4 separate regions of the Homo sapiens genome follow, and all the other regions are linked to region 1. Evidence: fine-mapped expression QTL. A gene starts in region 1. Each other region holds a variant in brackets. All regions are shown on one strand. Distances are from middle to middle.

Evidence for each region. PIP is the estimated chance that this variant, and not a neighbour inherited with it, causes the effect.
Region 2: its variant is the best candidate, but not a certain one, in a credible set for the expression of CRLF1 in cerebellar hemisphere (GTEx, PIP 0.58).
Region 3: its variant is the best candidate, but not a certain one, in a credible set for the expression of CRLF1 in aorta (GTEx, PIP 0.82).
Region 4: its variant is the best candidate, but not a certain one, in a credible set for the expression of CRLF1 in cerebellum (GTEx, PIP 0.68).

The regions. Positions count from the first base shown.
Region 1 is chr19:18,603,736-18,608,879 of GRCh38, forward strand. It overlaps CRLF1 (cytokine receptor like factor 1), which reads right to left and starts at 3,064. Exons shown (of 9, transcript NM_004750.5): 1 at 2,807-3,064. The coding sequence starts at 2,921. RefSeq lists an enhancer at 2,186-3,104.
Region 2 is chr19:18,716,211-18,721,354 of GRCh38, forward strand. All of the region lies in intron 1 of CRTC1 (CREB regulated transcription coactivator 1), which reads left to right. Among named protein-coding and RNA genes, the nearest start is that of CRTC1, 35 kb to the left of the region's middle. The variant A/G (reference allele first, on the strand shown) is at 2,750.
Region 3 is chr19:18,629,317-18,634,460 of GRCh38, forward strand. It overlaps the pseudogene RN7SL155P. Among named protein-coding and RNA genes, the nearest start is that of KLHL26, 5.1 kb to the right of the region's middle. The variant G/A (reference allele first, on the strand shown) is at 2,704.
Region 4 is chr19:18,704,488-18,709,631 of GRCh38, forward strand. All of the region lies in intron 1 of CRTC1 (CREB regulated transcription coactivator 1), which reads left to right. Among named protein-coding and RNA genes, the nearest start is that of CRTC1, 23 kb to the left of the region's middle. The variant C/A (reference allele first, on the strand shown) is at 2,606.

The DNA of each region.
Region 1 (5,144 bases):
ATTTTCCGGGGCAAACTTGGCTCGAGGGCTCTGTCTCGCTGGAGCCTGGAATCGCAGTTGCGCTTGGGGCTTGGCCCAGGGCTCGCCGGAGGTCTCCGCGTCCGTGCGAAGGAGCCGGCTGAGCGGGCCAGAGCCGAGGAGGCGGGGGCGGCCGAGGGGGGCGGGGGGCTGGGGGCCAGGGGACCGCCCTGGAGGTCCCAGGCAGCCAGCCGCCCGCTAATTCGGAATTCCTTTTGCATGAACTCGGGTGTGCCAGCGTCTCTGCCCCGGCCCACCCACCGCTTCCTGCCTGGGCCCCCCCAACAGAGTGGGAGGCACGGCCAGGCCTGCCCAGACCCCAGGCCCCTCTCAGCCCTTCTAGAGTGGGTCTCACTCCTCCTGCCCCCACCACCCGCCAGCTTGGCCTGGGCAGGAAGGGGCTCTCTGGGGGGTCCTGGCTGGGGGGCGCTGCCCCTCTGCCACACCCGCCTGGCCTGGGCCGGCGTGGCTCACTTGCCAGCAGCTGCAGCTGCCCTCCCGGGGCTGGGCGGGGGACACCGGGCGGCGACGGGTTGTAGGGGGAAGGCAAGGCCAGGCGGGCCTGGACAGACCAATCTCCCACCCCCTTAGCCCCAGCCGGTAAGGTCAGAAGGACACTTTCTCCTCCCGGGATATGGGCGCAACACCAGTGGGAGAACCTGGCCAATTGACTTCCCCTCTCCAGTTCTCAATTTTCTCCTCCATAAAATGGGAGGAGAAATACGTTCTACTTGCTGGGGAGATCAATGAGATGTGATTGCAATCCAATGTCCAGAGGGCTCAGAAGCCTGAAGCCCCCAGGAGCTGCAAAGATGACAGCCCCTCCCAGCTCTGGGGTCCCGGCTGACTAGGCACTCCCTCCAGGCCTCCACAAACAATGGGCTAAGGCGCTGGGGACAGAGATGCACGCACTCCAGGCCAGGCAGGGGAGCAGCTGGGAACAGCCCACTGAGCCGGAGTTGGTGGGGGCTTGGCTTGGTTTGGAGGGCCTCCTAGGGCTCCCCAAAGCAGATCCCTAGGTTGGGCTTTTGAACAGCTCCCTTTTCACTCCCTGCCTCCCCTCCTTTCCCGCAGAGCTGGGGCCTTTAAAAGTTTTTTCTCTCCTCTTTTCCCAATCTGGAGCCACTGCCGTTATTAAAAAGGAACACCATGTGTTTTAAAAGGGAAAAGTGTGAGATTCTCTGCAAGCAGGGCGGAAGGGTGGCCTCCATCCCAGGGTCCCCACGGGGGTCCCCATCTCCCGTCCCGCTGGTACCTGCAGACACTTTACGACCCACCCGCCTGCTGGTCAGGTGCTAAGACACACCGTAAGTAGAAACATATTGCCGAGGTGTGAGAATCTTTTATTTAATTTCTTCCCCCCTTAAAGGAAAAAACACACTTACAGTGCCCCCCCACCCCCTACACCTTCGCCTGCTGCTCTACTGGCTGAAAACAAAGCTTGGCGCTCACAGTGGCACTCACAGGCGCTGCCCACCGCCTGGCAGAGCCGTCAGGGGCCCTGGGAGGGCCCGAGGTAGCCCCTCACCTGAAAGCCAGGGGAGAGCCAGGCTTTCAGCAAGTGCCCCTAGAAGATGCCCGGACCCTGCCCCTTCCCGGAGGAGCCCTACAGGCAGCCCGCAAACAGCCCAGCACAGGGTGGATGAGCCTGGGAGCAGTGTGTGCCCGGCGACCCCCGGGGTGGCCCGTGCGCCTGGATGGGGTGCGTGGAGTGACTGAACATCTGGGGCGAGTGGTGCCTGCCTCTGTGCCCCTGGGTCGCCTCCCCTGTGGGATGTGTGTGACCGTGAATGTGTGTGTCGGGGATGGAATGTGTGTGCGTCCGCGATGGTGCGCGAATGTGCACCTGGGATGCAGTGTGCGCGAGTTTGAGGGCGAGGGTGACGGGCCACAAGCCAGTGTGATTCTTTGTGTGTCTCTGGGTGTGTCCCAGAGCGGGTCTGCATACGGAGACGTATCCTTGCGGGGGTGTTCCTTGGATGGGGGGCCCCAGAGTGCCTGAGGCCAGAAGTCCCTCCAGGGCAGGGGTCTTGGCCCGTAGGGCAGCGGGTTCCCAGTGGGCCCCCTCAAAGTTTGGGCCCGCTGGTGCCCGGACTCACTGGCTCCCGCTCCCTCTCCCTCTCACCCACTCGCTCACAAAGATTCCTCTCGCTGGAGGCTCTCCGCCCGACGCAGCCTGGCTGAAAACGGTTCTAAGCGCCGCCGGTGGCGGGGACTCCGCGGACCCCCGTGCGCCGGGTCCCGCAGGGGGAGGGCGGTGGCGCCGGCCCGTGGAGACACAAGTCCCCCGGGACCCCGGGCTGCGCGCCAGGCGGCCAGAGCGGCCCCCCTGCAGCCCCGCCCTCCCCGTGGGGCTCATCCCTCCGCCTGGGGGGGCCCGCTGGGGGCCCGCACCCAGCGCGCCAACCGCGTGCGCCCCCGCCTGGGAGCGGTGCCCTGCAGTCCCAGGGGCCCAGAGTCCACCGAAGCAGACGCGTGCGCCCGCCACGTCCTGGCATGCAGAGGGTCTCAGGCCGCGATCCCCCCAGCCCCCGGGGGCCTGGCCTGGCGCCCTCGGCCCAGCTGCCCAGGTAACAGGGCCTCGGGCGCGGAAGCAGGACTCTCTGGACAGTGGACTGCGGCGCCGTGTGCCCCGCAGGTGAGGGCGCCCCGAGGGCTGCGCCGGGGGCGCCTTCCTTTGTTCCCCGGCCGTCCAGGTGGCGCCCGCGCCCCCTCCCCCCGCGGCTGCCCCCGGGGCGCCCGCCCTCTGCTCTGGCAGGGGGGAAGGAGTGGGGCGCCGGGTACTCACGGGCTCCTGATCCGGCTCGCGGCGCCCCGAGGACGCAGAGCAGCAGCAGCAGGGGCAGCAACGGCGGCGGCCGCCGCGCGGATTGGGCGGCGGGGCCCCGGCGGCCGGCGGGCATGGGGCCGGCGCTGCCGGGGGCGCGCGGCGGGCTGCGGCTCGGCGGCGGTGGCGCAGGGCGCGGGACGCAGGCCGGGCGCGGGAGGGCGCGGGCCAGGCCGCCCGCACGTCGCTGGGCGCGGACGCGGAGGCCGGAGCAAGTCTGAGCAGCCGAATTGACAAGGCGCTAATGCGCCGCTGGCCCCGCCCGGCCCCGCCCCCGGCCCGGCCCGGCCCCGGGGGGGCGGCGGGCCCCGCACCGGCCTCCCCGCCGCCCGCCCGCCCGCGGGCACCGCGCGCCCCGCCCGTCCCGCCTCCGCCCCACCGAGAACCGCGCGCGCCCTATCCCGCGGCCCAAAGCCCCCTAACTCAACCCCTACCGGCCCAGGACCTCCCTCTCCAACCCTGCCAGCTCCAGGCTTCCCACCCCCAGTCTGGGACCCGGCACCCCCAATCCCGTTTCCATAACCCTGCCCACTTCCCTGCACCCTCCTCTCAGCCCAGTGCCTCTTCAGTGGCCCCTTTGGTCCCCAACCCTGCCCCACTCCTCCATTCCCCCTTCCACGGCCCAATCTTCTGTCTCGGCCCCCACCCCAGCTCTGGCCCCGCCCCCCCCACCGAGCGGTCCTTGAGTCCCGCCTACCCCCATCTCCAGCCCCTCAGCCTTCCCAGGGGCCTAAAAGTCACCCCCAGCCCCACGCCCTCGGCGCGCGGGTTCCAGCCCTCCCACCTCATCCTGCCTCTTTTCGATTCTCCGCGAGTAGCCTCGGCCCCAGGCTTTGCTGGAAGAAAGGAGAAAAAGCAGGAAGGCACGGAGTCCCTCGCCTTCGCCCTGGCTGCGCTGTCCCCTTCGCGCGCGGGATGGGTTTGAGGTTGCTCTGGGCGCCCCGGGGGCCTCGGGAGGGAGCTCCTGCGTGGGCAGACGGGGAGATGTAGTCCCCTGTGGGAGCCGGGACCCAGGCCTGCGCGGGAACTGGGTCCCGCACCGCAGTAAGAGGGATTCCCAGGAGGAGAGCGGTAAGAAGCTCTTTCCCCGGGACCTATTCACACCCCGCCACGGAAAAATCCACTCAGCGGCCCGCGGGTGGGGTGCGCCACGCGGTGAGTAATCGCTTCGGCGGCCACCGCCCGCCGACTCCAGGTAACGCCGGCTGCCCGGAGCGACGCATAGTTTGTCTTCCTTCTTTTGCGCAAAGAGCCTTCTCCGTGTTATTATTTTTGGCCATTGCTCGAGTTTCGGGACCCCTCCCGGTCCGGGCGTCTCATCTCCCTCCTCCCGGTCCCCACCCGATGCGGGCGCCCAGGAATAAAGGGTTCCTGGCCTCCAAGGCTGCTGCGGATGGGGGTGCCTGAAATGAGAGTTGGGGGGTGCAATTACCCACTTTTGGTCGCAGCCCCGCCCCCAGCTGCAGCGCCCAGGGAAGGGAACGGCTCCAAGTCCCCTTTTCCAGGAGTCCCTTAGAGGCCTGGATTCTCTCTCCTGGTCCCCAACCAGCCAAGGGGGTAAAAGTGTCTGAGGGGGGCTCAGGAGCCCCCATTTGTCTGCCCAAGACTGAAGCCCCACCCTCTCCTACTTAAATCTCCAGTTCAGACTCCAGACTGTCAAAAAACAAGATTGGGGGATGGGAGCCTATAGGGGCCCAGGGCGCCCCTGCTCCATCTGAATTCTGGATGGAGAAGACAGACAAGGAGAGACGCTGCCATTTACTTCGGGAAACCAGGCCTTTTGTGCCTCAGTTTCTTCCTCTGCACAGTGGGCACCACCCAGTCTAGGAGCTTCTGTGGGAAGACGCAGGGCAGCAGAAGTCTCTACAATCCAAGCCCTTAGCACAGCACTGGAGGATATCCTGGAGCAGAGGTGACCCCCAGCCCTGCTTGTCCCCTCTGAAACATGGAGCCATAGTCCCACCTGCCAGGGGACCCAGAGGGTTAAGTGGAGGTGGCAGTCCTTGGCTGGAATTGAGTTTTTAGGATACTCACCACTACTCCCCCATGGCTCCTGTCTGCAGATGCTCTCTGTGTGGATAGAGACGCCTCACTCCCTCCTGGGAGGACTTCAGGCTTCTGGAGCAAAACCTTGATTTTTTCCTCCCTCCATTTCTGCTTCTCTTCCAGTCATTTTGGTTTTGGGAAAGGGCTCTCCCATCCATCCAGGTGCTCAGGCCAGAGACCTGGAAGCGCACGTGACAACTCTCTCCTTTGCTCATCCCTCATGTCCAATTCATCAGCAAATCCTGTTGGCTCT
Region 2 (5,144 bases), 110 kb after region 1:
AGGGTCATTATTGGAGGTGGGGCCAGAATGTGGCTCCCGAATGACTCTTTTTTTTTTTTTGAGACGCAATCTTGCTCTGTCACCCAGGCTGGAGTGCAGTGGCACGATCTCAGCTCACTGCAGTCTCCACCTCCCAGGTTCAAGCAGTTCTCTGCCTCAGCCTCCCAAGTAGCTGGGATTACAGGCGTCTGCCACCACACCCAGCTAATTTTTGTATTTTTAGTAGAGATGGGGTTTCACCATGTTGGCCAGGCTGGTCTCAAACTCCTGACCTCATGATCCACCCACCTTGGCCTCCCAAAGTGCTGGGATTACAGGTGTGAGCAACTGTGCCTGGCCGGCTCCTGCATGACTCTTAGCCCAGGTGCAGCCCAGCAAGCATTAGCGTGTGGAGAGCCCAGCGGGCATTAGTGTGTGGAGAGGGCATGGCTAGTATAGGGGCTAGCGAGTAGAGCATGCTGTGTCGTCTTTCCTGTAGAGCTGGAGTGACCTGCTCAGGTGGGAAGTTTGGAGAGACTCCAGCTGAGTGGTTTGGGCGCTGCAGGGTTAACTTGAGACCCCAGTAGGAGGCTTCTGTATTTGTCCAGGCAAGAGAAGATGTGGCTTGGGCCAGAATGAGGACAGAAGAGGCGAGAGGGCAGAAGAGGTGCTGGGACATGGGGGAGCCAGGTGGGGCATGGGGGGTTCCTAAGGAAGGGACAGGTTTGGGCAGTTGTGAATGTGCTCGTGTGTGTGCAAGTGAGTGGGAGCTGGCGTGCAGGCAGGACAGGAGTGCAGGCAGGACAGGAGTGTGAGCATGTGTGTGTGCGTGTGAGCATATGTGCATGCACGTGCATGAATGTGTTTATGTGACTATGTGCATTGCTGTGAGTGTGCACACATGTGGCTGGGTGCATGTGTGTGAACACGTGTGATGTCTGTACAGCCTCCCTGGTGGGTGACTGGCGCTGGGCTGGAGACATGAGTTTGGGGAGCTTTGAGTGAGGGGTGATGGTGGCACTCCCAGGGTGGGGCTGAGAGGGGGCTGCTGGGCTTGGGAGTGGAGGGCCCAGGGGAAGTCTTTCCCCTAGCACCCTCTCCCAGGGTCTTCAGGCTGTGTGGGAGCCAGGACTGGGTCTGTCTCCTTGTGGCCTCTGTCCTTGGTGCAGTAATGACCACTGGGTAGTGGCCCTTGGGGTCAAGGGCATCCCTGGAGCCCTTGCCATAGATGCTGAGCTGGAGCAGGGCTGCCACCCCATACTGTTCAGGGGCCAGTCCCTCCCCTCTGGAGCTGATCACCCCAAACACTGTCCCCTCAGAAGGGTCGTAGTGCTCACTCACAGGAGCCTGTGTTTCTGCCTGTGTGTGGGGCACTGGGGCCCAGAGAGGCAGACACAGATGCGTGCAGCCACCAGCTTGGATGCAGGACCCCTGGGCTCAAACACTGCCTTCCAGTCTCAGCCTACAGTGAGTATGGGCGGGGCTGGAGGATGCAGCTCAGAGAGGAGGGTGCAGGGTTCCGGGGTGGGCCAAATGCCGGGTGGGAGCAGAGCAGGGCCGCAGGGACATGGGAGGGCCTCTCGCAGGACGGTTTCTCATGCCAGCCCTGGTCAAGGCAGCAGTGGTTTCCAGACACGGGGGTGCGTGTGTGAGGCAGGAACAGTACAAGCAGAGGGCCCCTGGGGAGAAGGCCTTTGACAGCAGGAAGAGGACCTGGCAGTAGGGACAGGAGTGAGGGAGAAGAAAAAGACAGCAGGGCCTGGGCAGCCCCGTCACGGGGCTGGCTTTGAATCTTACTTATCTATTGTTGAGGTGAACACCACATAACATAAGATTCACCATCTGAAAGTGAACAGTTCCATGGCGTTTGGCGCATTCACAGTATTGTGCAGGCATCACAGCTATCTAGTTCCAGAACATTCTCATCATCCAAAGGAGACCTTGTCCCCATTAGCAGTCCCTCCCCTCCTCTCCTCCCCAGCCCCTGGCAGTTACTAATCTGCTTCCTGTCTCTGTGGATTTGCCTGTTCTGAGCATTTCAGATCGATGGAATCTCACACCCTGTGGCCTTCTGTACCTGGCTTCTCTCACTCAGCATCACATGTTCAGTTTCATCCACATTGTAGCATGGGTCAGTGCTTCCTTCCTTTTTTGTTGTTCCTCTTGAGACAGGGTCTCACTCTGTCACCCAGGCTGGAGTGCAGTGGTACGATCACAGCTCACTGCAGCCTCCACCTCTTGGGCTCTGTCCAACCTCCCACCTCTGCCTCTCGAATAGCTGAAATTATTGGTGTGCACCACCATGCATGCCTGGCTAATTTTTTTTTTTTTTTTTTAGAAACAGGGTTTCACCATATTGGCCAGGCTGCTCTCAAACTCCTGGCCTCAAGGGATCTTCCCTCCTCCGCCTCCCAAAGTGCTGGGATTACAAGTGTGAGCCACCGTGCCCAGCCTTCATTCCTTTTCATGGCTGAATCTTATTCCACTGTATGGACAGACCAGTCTTATTCATTCATCCCTTGGCACACACGTGGGTTTTCCCACCTTTTGGCTGTTGTCCATTGTGCTGGTACACACACTCATGTATGATTGTCTTCATTTCGTGGGGGCATCCGTCCAGGAGTGGGATTGCTTGGTCATAACAGCAGCTCAGCATGTCACTTGTTGAGGAACCGCCATACAGATTGGGGGTTTATTTTAAATAGGATGGAAGCCTACTGGTGTGTTTAAAACGGGAGCATAACACGATTTGAACTGAATGAATAAAGAG[A/G]AGAAAATGAAGGAGTCTCGGCAGCCACTTGCAGAGGGAGCAGGGAGGCCTGGGAGGAGGTCACGTGGGTGTCTGGGTGCGAGATGACACGGGCTAGTACCAGGGAGGGGGCTGACGATGGGCCCTGGAAGTCGAGCTGCTGGGAAGTGATCATGGGAGTGATGAGGCAGGCAGAGGAAAGGGACACCTCCAGCCTCTGTCCCTGCTTCTTCTACCCTGGCGGGCGCAGCCTCCAACTAGTGACCCCTCCTCTGGGCTTGGTCCTTCCCTGCATCGTGTGTGTCTGCTGGGCACTCCAAATGTGGTGCCTGGCCCCGCTAGCCCAGAATGCGGCCTGAAGATGGTGAGACAGGCAAGGGCTAACCCCACCGGGTCCCCAGGGCCTGCAGCAGGTGCCACCTGGGGCCTGGCTAGGAGTTCAGGGGCCTGGGTGAAGCCTTTGGGACAGGGCTGTGAGGGCACTCAAGGGGTACCAGGTGGGCCCCGGCAGGCCCAGGATCTGGCCTTCCAAATCACAAAATGACTTTTGGTGTTATGTAACTCCATAGTCAAGCTATGTCTAAAAAATGGAGCATAAAAGCTATTTTGGGCCCATGGTAATGAGGGCATCTCGCCTTTGTCTTAGCCGTCCTGGGGGGAGGCAGCGTCGAAAGAGCTGCTCAGAGAGGCGGGTTCAGCCCAGACCCCAAGCAAGCCCTGTGTCAGCAGGCAGATGCCGTTTTCAAAAATCATTTGTTCCGCCTCGACCGGAGGTGGCTCCTGGCAGATCGCCCCGCGGTGCTCAGAATCCCAGAGGCCTGCGGGCGGCTGACCCGGGGCGAGCAGGGCTGGGCCTCCTCTGCCGTGTCTGGGATCTGACTTCCCTGAGGTTAGGTCCGGCACCTGTCAGAAACCAGGCCTGACATTTTCAAGATGGGCACAGGCCCGCTCCGGGAAGGCCCCAGGCCCGTCCATGTGGGCAGCGTCGGCGTCGGGCTTCTTGCCTGGGACCCAGGGGCCGCTCTTGGGGAGGGAGACCCTGTTTCAAGTGGCCAGCATCCCCGCCAGTGGTTTGCATTATTCAATTGGTGATAAGATTTAAAATTAAACTGCAAAGGATCTGTTCCCCCAGCTACAAATAGACGTGTGCTTGCACATTCCAGAACACAAGTGTGCACCAAGAGATGTGTTTTGAGTCAAGGTGGAGAAAAAGTGAGTTTTTTTGTTTTGTTTTGTTTTGTTTTTGAGATGGAGTCTCACTGTCTCCCAGGCTGAAGTGTAGTGACGCGATCTCGTGTCACTGCAACCTCTGCTTCCCTGGTTCAAGCAATTCTCCTGCCTCAGCCTCCCGAGTAGCTGGGATTACAGATGTGAGCCACCACACCTGACTAACTTTTGTATTTTCTTTCTTTCTTTCTTTTTCTTTTTTTTGAGACAGTCTCGCTCTGTCACCCAGGCTGGAGTGCAGTGGCATGATCTCGGCTCACTGCAAGCTCCGCCTTCCGGGTTCACGCCATTCTCCTGCCTCAGCCTCCCGAGTAACTGGGACTACAGTCGCCTGCCACCACGCCCGGCTAATTTTTAGTGTTTTTTTTTTTTTTTTTTTTTTAGCAGAGATGGGGTTTCACCATGTTAGTCAGGATGGTCTTGATCTCCTGACCTTGTGATCCGCCCGCCTCGGCCTCCCAGAGTGCTGGGATAACAGGCGTGAGCCACCACGCCCGGCCTAACTTTGGTACTTTCAGTAGAGACGGGGTTTCATCATGTTGGCCAGGCTGATCTCGAACTCCTGACCTCAAGAGATCCACCCACCTTGACCTCCCAAAGTACTGGGATTGCAGGTGTGAGCTGCTGCACCCGGCTGAGTTTTGGAATTCCCTCTCTTTCTCTCTGCTCATGTACACTATGTGCACGCATGCATGGGGCCCTCTCTGCCCGAGTACACTGCCTGCACACATGCGTGGGGCCTTAGTCCTTCCTTTCCTGTTGGTGGCTGTAACAAATGACCACAAACTGGGTATCTTAAAACAATAGAAATGTATTCAGTGCAGGTGTCGGCAGGGCTGGTGCCTGCAGGAGGCTCTAGGGGAGGATCCTTCCTGCCTCCTCCAGCTTCAGTGGCTCTAGGCGCTCTTTGCATCACTCCAGTCTCTGCCTTCATTGTCATGTGGACACCTCCTCTCACTGTGTCTCTTCTCATCTTCTGAGGATGCTAGTCATTGGATTTAAGGCATACCCTACTCCAGTTCAACCTCTGTTTTTTTTTTTTTTTTGAGACGGAGTCTCGCTCTGTCGTCCAGGCTGGAGGGCAGTGGCGCGATCTCGGCTCACTGCAAGCTCCGCCTCCTGGGTTCACGCCATTCTCCTGCCTCAGCCTCCCGAGTAGCTGGGACTTCAGGCGCCCGCCACCATGCCC
Region 3 (5,144 bases), 26 kb after region 1:
GTAGTGGGTGGGTGGGTGGCTGGCGTCATGGCAACGGTAGCACAGGGTTGCCACAGCAACTTGGTTCCCTAGTGACAGGCCTGAGTTTCTTAGCCCAGGGGTGGCAATCCGCCAGGAAGAAATGGGGAGAGGGTGTCCCCAGCATCCAGCTGGCACACAGGGGACATTCTGTAAACACTTGGAGGGCAGGATGGGGATGCATGGTGGCTGTCTTTTCCTGGGGTGCGAAGAGGAGACTTCAGGTCCCTGTTGGGCTCCATGCAGCTCCTGGCACACTCTCCCTCCTCAGGGCCCCCATGCAGGCTGTTCCCTCCGCCTGGAGGCTGTTCCCTCTTCGCTCCGTCTGGCCAGCTCTTCAGCCTGACCTCCTGGCTCAGCCCCAGCTTTTATCATGGTGACAATTAAGTGATGGCTTGTTTGCTTGTGTGATGATTGGTTTAATAAATGTTCCCTCTGCCAGATGCTATGCGCTAGGCGTCTCGGTCACAGCTGTGTCCCACACACCAAGGAGGCTGCTCTCAATACATCTTTGTCGACACTCTCCATCCTTGCTCCGCCTTGCCCACTTCTTCCAAGCCAGTGCGGCCTCATCTCTATCCCTTGAGCTTTTTCTGGCACTGGGCTTAGGTCCTTCATATTATGTCCTCTCAGAATATACGGGAACATTGCACAATGTTCTGGAATGTCCTGGAACATTCTAGAACATTCTGTCCCCTTCTTTTACTGAAGCTGGGACATCATCACCTCTTCAGGGAGGCTCTCCCTGATCTTCTGGCTGAAGCAGTGCTCCCCTACCCAACACACACTTGATCGCTCTCAGCTCATTGCCTTCAAGGCAGTTATTGCCATCTGAAATGGCCTTGGTCATTGATCAATTATATATCTCAGATTTGTCTTTCCCATCAGAATGTACCTTTCAGAATATCTTGGAACATGAGGTCAAGGATCTTGTCGGATGGGCTGACAGTTGAATCCCCAGCAGCCTCTCAGCACCCTAGTCCCCACAGTGGTGGGTCCCAGTTGGTCGCCCCCCAGAGGTAGTCCTAGTTCTTATCACATTGGGTGGATTTGACCTTTTCTTTTTTTTTCTATTGGGATGGGATCCCTCTATGTTGCCACGGCTGGTCTTAAACTCCTGGACTCAAGTGATCCTCCTGCCTCGGCCTCCCAAAGTGCTGGGATTACAGTCTTGAGCCACCGCAACTGGCCTGATTTTGTTTTAGTAAATCAGCTTTTTTTTTTTTTTTTTTTTTTTGAGGCAGAGTCTCACTCTGTCACCCAGGCTGGAGTGCAATGGCTTGGCTCACTGCAAGCTCCGCCTCCTGGGTTCACACCATTCTCCTGCCTCAGCCTCCCAAGTAGCTGGGACTACAGGTGCCCGCCACTACACCCGGCTAATTTTTTGTATTTTTAGTAGAGACGGGGTTTCACCGTGTTAGTCAGGATGGTCTCGATCTCCTGACCTTGTGATCCACACACCTTGGCCTCCCAAAGTGCTGGGATTACAGGCGTGAGCCACCGCGCCCAGCCTTAGTAAACCAGCTTTAATAAGACATAATTTACATCCAATGGCACATCCATGTTAAATGCCCAGTTCAATGAGTTTTGGCAAATGTAATCCTCCTAAGATACCCCTATAATCAAGATATACACTAGGTATGGTGGCTCACACCTGTGATCCCAGCACTTTGGGAGGCTGAAGTGGGAGAATCACTTGAGGCCTGGAGTTCAAGACCAGCCTGAACAATATAGTGAGACTCTGTCTCTACCAAATTTTTTTTACAAAATTAGCCAGGTGTACTGGCATACACCTGTGGTCCCAGCTACTCTGGAGGCTGAGGTACGAGGCTCATTTGACCCAGGAGGTTGAGGCTGCAGTGAGCTATGATTGCGCCACTGCATTTCAGCCTGGGCGACAGAGTGAGACCTTATCTCTAAAAATATAAATAAATAAATAAAAGGGCCCGGCGTGGTGGCTCATGCTTGTAATCCCAGCACTTTAGGAGGCTGAGGTGGACAGATTGCTTGAGCTCAGAAGCTCAAGACCAGCCTGGGCAACATGGTGAAACCTCAACTCTACAAAAAAAAAAAAATGCAAAAATTAGCTGGGCGTGGTGGCGCACACCTGTGGTCTCAGCTACTCGGGAGACTGAGGTAGGAGGATCACTTGAGCCCAGGAAGTCAAGGCTGCAGTGAACTGAGGTTGCACCACTGCACTCTGGGTGACAGAGTGAGACCCTGTCTCAAAAAAATAAATAAATAAAAATAAAATAATAAAATTAGAAAGGCATGGTGGCATATGCCTTATAGTTCTAGCTACTCAGGAAGCTGAGGAGGGAGCATGGCTTGAGCCCAGGAATTGGAGGTTACAGTCAGCTATGATCGTGCCACTGCACTCCAGCCTAGGTGACAGAGCGAGACGAAGACCCTGTCTTTCTTTTTTTTGAGCCAGAGTTTTGCTCTTGTTGCCCAAGCTGGAGTGCAATGGCATGATCTCGGCTCACTGAAACCTCCGACTCCTGGGTTCAAGCCATTCTCCTGCCTCAGCCTCCCGAGTAGCTGGGATTACAGGCATGTGCCACCACGCCCGGCTAATTTTGTATATTTATTTATTTATTTTATTTTTATTTTTATTTTTATTTTTTTTGAGACAGAGTCTCGCTCTGTCACCCAGGCTGGAGTGCAGTGGTGCGATCTGGGCTC[G/A]CTGCAAGCTCCGCCTCCCGGGTTCACGCCATTCTTCTGCCTCAGCCTCCCAAGTAGCTGGGACTATGGGCTCCCACCACCACGCCTGGCTAATTTTTTTTGTATTTTTTAGTAGAGACGGGGTTTCACCATGTTAGCCACGATGGTCTCGATCTCCTGACCTCGTGATCTGCCCGCCTCGGCCTCTCAAAGTGCTGGGATTACAGGCGTGAGCCACCACGCCCGGCCAATTTTGTATTTTTATTAGAGATGAGGTTTCTCCATGTTGGTCAGGCTGGTCTCAAACTCCCGACCTCAGGTGATCCGCCCGCCTTGGCCTCCCAAAGTGCTGGGATTACAGGCGTAAGCCACCGCACCTGGCCAAGACCCTGTCTTTTAAGAAAATGGATAAATAAAACATAAAAAAAGAAGGTAGCCAGTCGAGGTGGCTCGTGCCTGTAATCCCAGTACTTTGGGAGGCCGAAGTGGGCGGATCACCTGAGGTTGGGAGTTTGAGACCAGCCTGGCCAACATGATGAAATGCTGTCTCTGCTAAAAATACAAAAATCAGCCAGGCCTGGTGGTGGGCAACTGTAATTCCAGAGACTTGGGAGGGTGAGGCAGGAGAATCGCTTGAACCCGGGAGGTGGAGGTTGCAGTGATATGAGATCGCGCCACTGCACTCCAGCCTGGGCGACAGAGTGAGACTCTGTCTCAAAAAAACAAAACAAAACAAAAACAACAACAAAAATTTAAATAAATAAATAAAACATAAAAAAAGAAGGTGGGGCCAGTGCAGACATGACTTCAAGGAGGTGCGGGAGGCTGCTGGCTGGGGTAACAGAGAGAGATCATGGTGTTTGTCAGCAAGCCTCACTCATGATCCTGAAAGGATGTGCCGCCTCCATTAAAAAAAAATTTAGGGCCAGGCGCAGTGGCTCACGCCTGTAATCCCAACACTTTGGGAGGCTGAGGTGGGTGAATCGTCTGAGTCAGGAATCCAAGACCAGCCTGGCCAACATGGTGAAACCCTGTCTCTACTAAAAATACAAAAATTAGCCAGGCGTGGTAGTGCATGCCTGTAATCCCGGCTACTTGGGAGGCTGAGGCAGGAGAATTGCTTGAACCTCGGAGGCGGAGGTTGCGGTGAGCCAAGATTGTGCCATTACACTCCAGCCTGGTGACAGAGCGAGACTCTGTCTCAAAAAAAAAAAAAAAAGGTAAAACACAGAGTTTGTTAGATAGGAGAAAAATCAAACAGGACTGAGGACAGGGAGTTGATGTCGGGGGACCTTGGGCTTGCCCCAGGACCACTCCGTGGTGACTGCCTGATGGGGCAGACACTGTCCCCAGCCTAAAACCACAGGAACTTGAAGCCCTCCCCCAAGGCTTCACTTTCCTCCTCCATAACACCTGGGGATTGTAAGGGAGGCCTCCAAGCTCTGACCTGAGGGTGTGAGCCCTGCAGCTGGTCTGAAGTGGGAGAGCAGGTGGCGCGGGCCCTGCCTCTAGGAGAGCCGTGCCAGCTGTGGGCCAGATGGTGGCCAGGCCCGTGGATGCTGCCTGCTATGTCCCTGCCTGCCGGCTCTGCTAGACCACAGGTCATCATTACTGGATGAGGCGTGTGCAGTCACCGGCGTGGGCCCTCCAGGTCCTCCACTTGTCTCTGCTCCATGCCAGTGATAGTGGCCTCTAGAGCTCAGGCCAACAGCTCTGGCAGAGGTCACTGGCCTCACTCTGCCTCACTCGACATCCCATCTGTTCCATCTCTTTTTGGTCCCACCTGCAAAGTGCATCTCAACTAGGACTACCTCCCACCCCTCCATGTCTGTCACCCTGGGATGAGCCCTACCCATTTTTCCCTGGATTATATGCCTCCTGACTCATGTCCCAAATTCAAGATATTGTCCCCCAGTTGTCAGACACTGTTGAACAGTCAGACACTGTAACACTGTTAAATTGACACTGTTAAAACCAATGTCAGCTGGGTGCAGTGGTTCACGCTATAATCCTGGCACTTTGGGAGGCTGAGGCGGGCAGATCACTTGAGGTCAGGAGTTCGAGACCAGCCTGGCCAACATGGTGAAACCCCGTCTCTAATAAAAATACAAAAATTATGCTGGGCACAGTGGTTCACTCCTGTAATCCCAGCACTTTGGGAGGCCAAGGCAGGTGGATCACTTGAGGTCAGGAGTTTGAGACCAGCCTGTCCAACATGGTGAAACCATCTCAACTAAAAATACAAAAATTGGCTGGGCGTGGTGGCACATGCCTGTAGTCCCAGCTACTCGGGAGGCTGAGGCAGGAGAATCACTTGAACCTGGGAGGCGAAGATTGCAGTGAGCTGAGATTGTGCCACGGCACTCCAGCCTGGGTGACAGAGTGAGACTCCATCTCAAAAAAAAAAAAAAAATTAGCCAGGCATGTGGTACATGCCTGTAGTCCCAGCTACTCAGGAGGCT
Region 4 (5,144 bases), 100 kb after region 1:
GATCACCTGAGGTGAGGAGTTCGAGACCAGTCTAGTCAACATGTTGAAACCCCGTCTCTATTAAAAATACAAAAATTAGCTGGGTGTGGTGGCAGGCGCCTGTAATCCCAGCTACTCGGGATGCTGAGGCAGGAGAATCGCTTGAACCCTGGAGGCAGAGGTTGCAGTGAGCCATGATCGCACCACTGCACTGCAGCCTGGGCAACAGAACAAGACCCTGTCTCAAAAACAAACCAAAAACAAAACAAATACACATAACGTGTAAGTTACTGTCTTAACCTTAAGTGTGCAGTTCAGTGGCATTTAGTAAGTATCCTCACATTGTTTTGCAATCATCACCACCATCTGTGTTCAGAGCTTTTGCATCTTCCCGCACAGAAACTCTGTCCCCATTAAACACTCACCCACCCACCCCCTACCCCCCAATCCCCAACCCCCACCCTCCTACTACCCTCCATTCCCTCCCAGCCCCTGGCAACCACCATCCTATTTTCCACCTCTATGAGTTTGACGACTCCAGGGACCTCATGTAAGGAGAATCATCCAGGATTTATCATTTTGTGTCTGGCTTATTTCACTGAGCATAATGTCCTCAAGGTTCGTCCACGTTGTAACGTGTCAGAACGTCCTTCCCCTCTAAGGCTGTTATTCCACTGTATGGATGGGACACATTTTGTTTATCCGTTCATCTGTTGATGGACATTTGGCTGGTTTCACCATTTGGCTATTGTGCGTAGTGCTGCTGTGAACATTGGTGTACATCTCTTTGAGTCCCTACTCATAATTTTTTTGGGTATATTCCCAGACATGGGATTGCTGGATCATGTGTAATTGTATGTTTAATTTTTTTTGAGACAGAGTTTTGCTCTACCACCCATGCTGGAGTGCAGTGGCGTGATCTCGGCTCACCACATCCTCTGCCTCCTGGGTTCAAGCGGTTCTGCCTCAGCCTCCCGAGTAGCTGGAATTACAGGCGCATGCCACCACACCTGGCTAATCTTTGTGTTTTTAATGGAGATGGGGGTTTCACCATGTTCGCCAGGCTGGTCTCGAACTCCTGACCTCAGATGATCCACCTGCCTTGGCCTCCCAAAGTGCTGGGATTACAGGCGTGAACCACCACGCCCAGCCAGCATGTTTAATTTTTTGAGGAACTGCCACACTGTTCTCTGTAGTGGCTATACCATTTTATGTTCCTACCAACAGTGTATAAGGATTTCAGTTTCTCCATATCCTCAATAACACTTGTTATTTTCTGATTTTTTGATAATAGCCATCCTAATGTCTACTAATATTTACTAATCCTAATATTTTTTTTTTGCAAAAAATGATATTTTGATAGGGATTGTGGTTTTGGTTTGCATTTCCCTAATGATTAGTGATGTTGAGCATCTTTTCATGTGCTTCTTGGCCATTTGTCTGTCTTTGGAGAAATGTTTATTCAAGTCCTGTGCCCTTTTCCTTTTCCTCTCTCTCTCTCTTTTTTTTTTTTTTTAATGCTTTTTAGTATATTCATACTTTATCTATTTTAAATTGGGTTGTTTTTCTTTTTGCACTTGGAGATCCTGTTTTCCCAGAGCTATTTGTTGAAAAGACCATCCTTTTCCCATTGAGTAGTTTGGCACCCTTGTTGAAAATCACTTGACCATATATGTGACAGTTTATTTCTGGGCTTTCTATTCTATTCCATTGGTCTTTTTTTTTTTTTTTTTTTTTTTTTTTTTTTTTTTTTTTTTAGACAGAGTCTTGCTCTGTCTCTCAGGCTGGAGTGCAGTGGTGCAATCTTGGCTCACTGCAACCTCCTCCTCCCGGGTTCAAAGCGATTCTCCTGCCTTAGCCTCTTGAGTAGCTGGGATTACAGGTGCCCATCACCACACTCAGCTAATTTTTGTATTTTTAGTAGAGATGGGGTTTCACCATGTTGGCCAGGCTAGTCTTGAACTCTTGACCTCAGATGATCCCCCCCGCCTTGGCCTCCCGAAGTGTTGGGATTATAGGCGTGAGCCACCACATCTGGCCCCATTGGTCTTTATGTTTCTCTTTATGCCAGTATCACACTCTTTTGATTACTGTAGCTTTGTAGTTAAGTTTTGAGATCAAGAAGTGTGAGTCTTCCAATTTTGTTATTCTTTTTCAATATTGTCTTGGCTATTTGAGGTTTTTTGAGATTCTGTATGGATTTTAGGGTGGATTTTTTTCTATTTCTGCGAAAAAGGATATTTTGATAGGGATTGTGGTTTTGGTTTGCATTTCCCTAATGATTAGTGCTGTTGAGCATCTTTTCATGTGCTTATTGGCCATTTGTCTTTGGAGAAATGTTTATTCAAGTCCTTTGCCCTTGTTTTTTAGCGCTTTTTAGTACATTCACATTTTGACTATTTTTAAATTGGGTTGTTTTTCTTTTTGTTGGTGGGTTGTAAGAGTTCTTTATATAGTCTACATATTGATCCCTTATCATCTATATGATTCGCAAATATTTTCTCTCATTCCGTGGGAATGGGGCCTTTTCACTCTGTTGATTACGTCTTTTGATGCACAAGTGTTTTTAATTTTGGCAGCATCCAATTTATGTATTTTTTCTTTTGTTGCCTGTGCTTTTGGTGTC[C/A]GATCCAAGAAATTATTGCCAACTCCAGTGTATGAAGCTTTTCCTCTGTTTTCTTCCAAGAGTTTTATAGTTTTAGTATATATAGTTTTAGCTTTTATGGTTTTAGTTATAGAGTTACAGTTTTAGTTTTTTACTTTTATAGTTTTAGCTTTAGATCTTTGATCCGTCTTGAGTTAATTTTTGTATATGGTGTTAGATCAGGGCACAGCTTCATTCTTTTGCATATGGAGATCTTGTTTTTCCAGAGCCGTTTTGTTGAAAAGACTGTCCCTTCCCCGTTGAATGGTTTGGCACCCTTGTTGAAAATCACTTGACCATATATGTGAGGGTTTATTTCTGGGCTTTTATTCTATTCCATTGGTCTTGATGTTTGTCTTTATGTCAGTACCACACTGTTTTGATTACTGTAGCTTTGTAGTTAAGTTTTGAAATAACAAAGTGTGAGTCCTCCAATTTTGTTATTTTTCAAGATTGTCTTGTCTATTTCAGATTCCTTGAGATCCCATATGGATTTTAGGGTGGATTTTTTTCTATTTCTTCAGGAAATGGTATTTTGGTAGGGATTGCATTGAATCTAGACTGTTTTGGGTAGTATTGCCACCTCTGAAATATTAAGTTGTGGCCGGGCACAGTGGTTCACGCCTGTAATCCCACCACTTTGGGAGGCCAAGGCAGGAGGATCACTTGAGCCCAGGAGTTCAAGACCAGGCAGAGCAACGTAGTCAGATCCTGTCTCTATTTAAAACAACAACAACAAAAAGAAGTCACACTCTCCTCCTCCCAGCTATGTGACCCTGGGCAAGCCCATAATTGGCCCCTGCCTCAGTTTCCCCATCTGTAAGATGTGCCATGAAGGGGGCTAACTCTGTCAATGCATGAACAGTCCTCAGGACTGTAGCTTGCACAGGTAGTGCTCCATGAAGGCAGCCATGTCTCCTGGGAGGGCTGCCTGGAGGAGGAGAGCTCTGCAGTGGGACATTAGGGGTGAGGTCCGAGTTGCCGGTGCAAGAGGTGGGTAGGGAAGGGAAGGCTCTTTGGGTGGAGGAGAAACAGCATATATGGGGCCCAGAGGCCTACAGGAGGCAGGGAAGGAGGAAGGAGAGAGGAGACCCAGATCTGGAAAGGCCCAAGAGCCAAGCTGGAGAGCTTGGACGTGATCCCACAGCCAGCTATGGGGTGGGGAGGGGTGACCCAGGATCAGCTTTGAGCTTTAAGAAAGGCTAGAGAAAAGGTGGTGGGGTTGGAGAGGAGAACAGGGAAGGGAGTTGTGGGTTCTGGAGGGGCTCAGGAACTGCAGAGGAGAGGTGAACCCAGGGTGCCCGAGAGAGGAACGGGGCCACCCCGGGTTTCTGGCTTCTGTATCAGCATCAGGAAGATCATGGCACTGTCTGCCAGGGCCAGGTGAATTGGGCACGTTGGCTGGGGGAATCGGGACCATGACGAGCCTGGTGAGGGGCTGCTGGGCTGGAGGAGTCTCCTGGGGCATCACAGGGAATGTTCTGGAAGCAGGGCTGGGGCGGCACTTGGGAGTTAGCTGACAGTAAGGAGTGACGTGAGAAACACAGAGGCCAAGTCCTCGGGGAGCCAAGTTTGAGAGGCAGACGGAGCGTGGGGACCGAGGTCAGGGCTCCTGTGGGGCCGGCCTGGCCCTTCCCTTCCCACCGCCGTTCGGGACCCTGTGGTATCTTCCGTGGGCACTGGCCCTGCTCCCAGCTGAGCGGTGCCCAGAAGCAGGAGGACCCTGGTTTCCTGCCCCTACTCAGCCACCCTGCCCACGCCGTGGCAAGCCCAGAGCTGTGCTCAGTTCAGGCAGCCGTGTGGCCACCCTGGTGACTCCTCCCTGCCGCTCCCTGCTGTCCTGTCCTCCGTGGGGTGCTGTCTCTAGGCCCGGGAGGAAGGCTGAGGGGAAGGCCTCATGGGTGCAGTGGGTAAATGTCCACCCGGTACCTCCTCTGAGCCCGCATGGTGCTCGGAGGTGCAGGGTCCCAGGGCTGTTTCTGGAGCAGCAGGTGCCAGGCATGGCATGGGAGGGGCCTTGTGGAGCCCAGAGTCGCAGGTGCACCTGGCAGTGGGCAGAGCAGCTGCAGAGGCTTGGTGTTGGCAGGGTGCACATGAGGAGGTGGTAGCCAAGGGGACAGGGCCTCCCAGCCTGGTGCCCGCAGCCTCCCTCACACAGGGACCACCTTTCCCCTCACCTGGCCCCTCATCCTCTGTCCTGATGTCCCCTCATGGTGCCTTTTTATGCCCACCTTGCCCCCACACGTAACCCTCAGGCAGTGGGAGAAGGGCTGCAGCAGGGGGGTGTGGCTCCTGGTGCAGGGGACAGGCCAGGTGGCAGGAGCCAGGACAGCTTCAGAGGGAGAAGCCTCCAGGCCCAAAATGGGGCCTAGACAGGAAGGAGGGAGCGGGCAGGTTAAGAAGGGCAGTATCTGCATGGGGCTGAGAGGGAGCAGAGAGGGCATCTGAGGGTGGCTGGGGGCTGTGTCTGAGCAAGGCCATGGATGGGAGTTGGGATGAGCCTCTGTACCTGCGGACACCC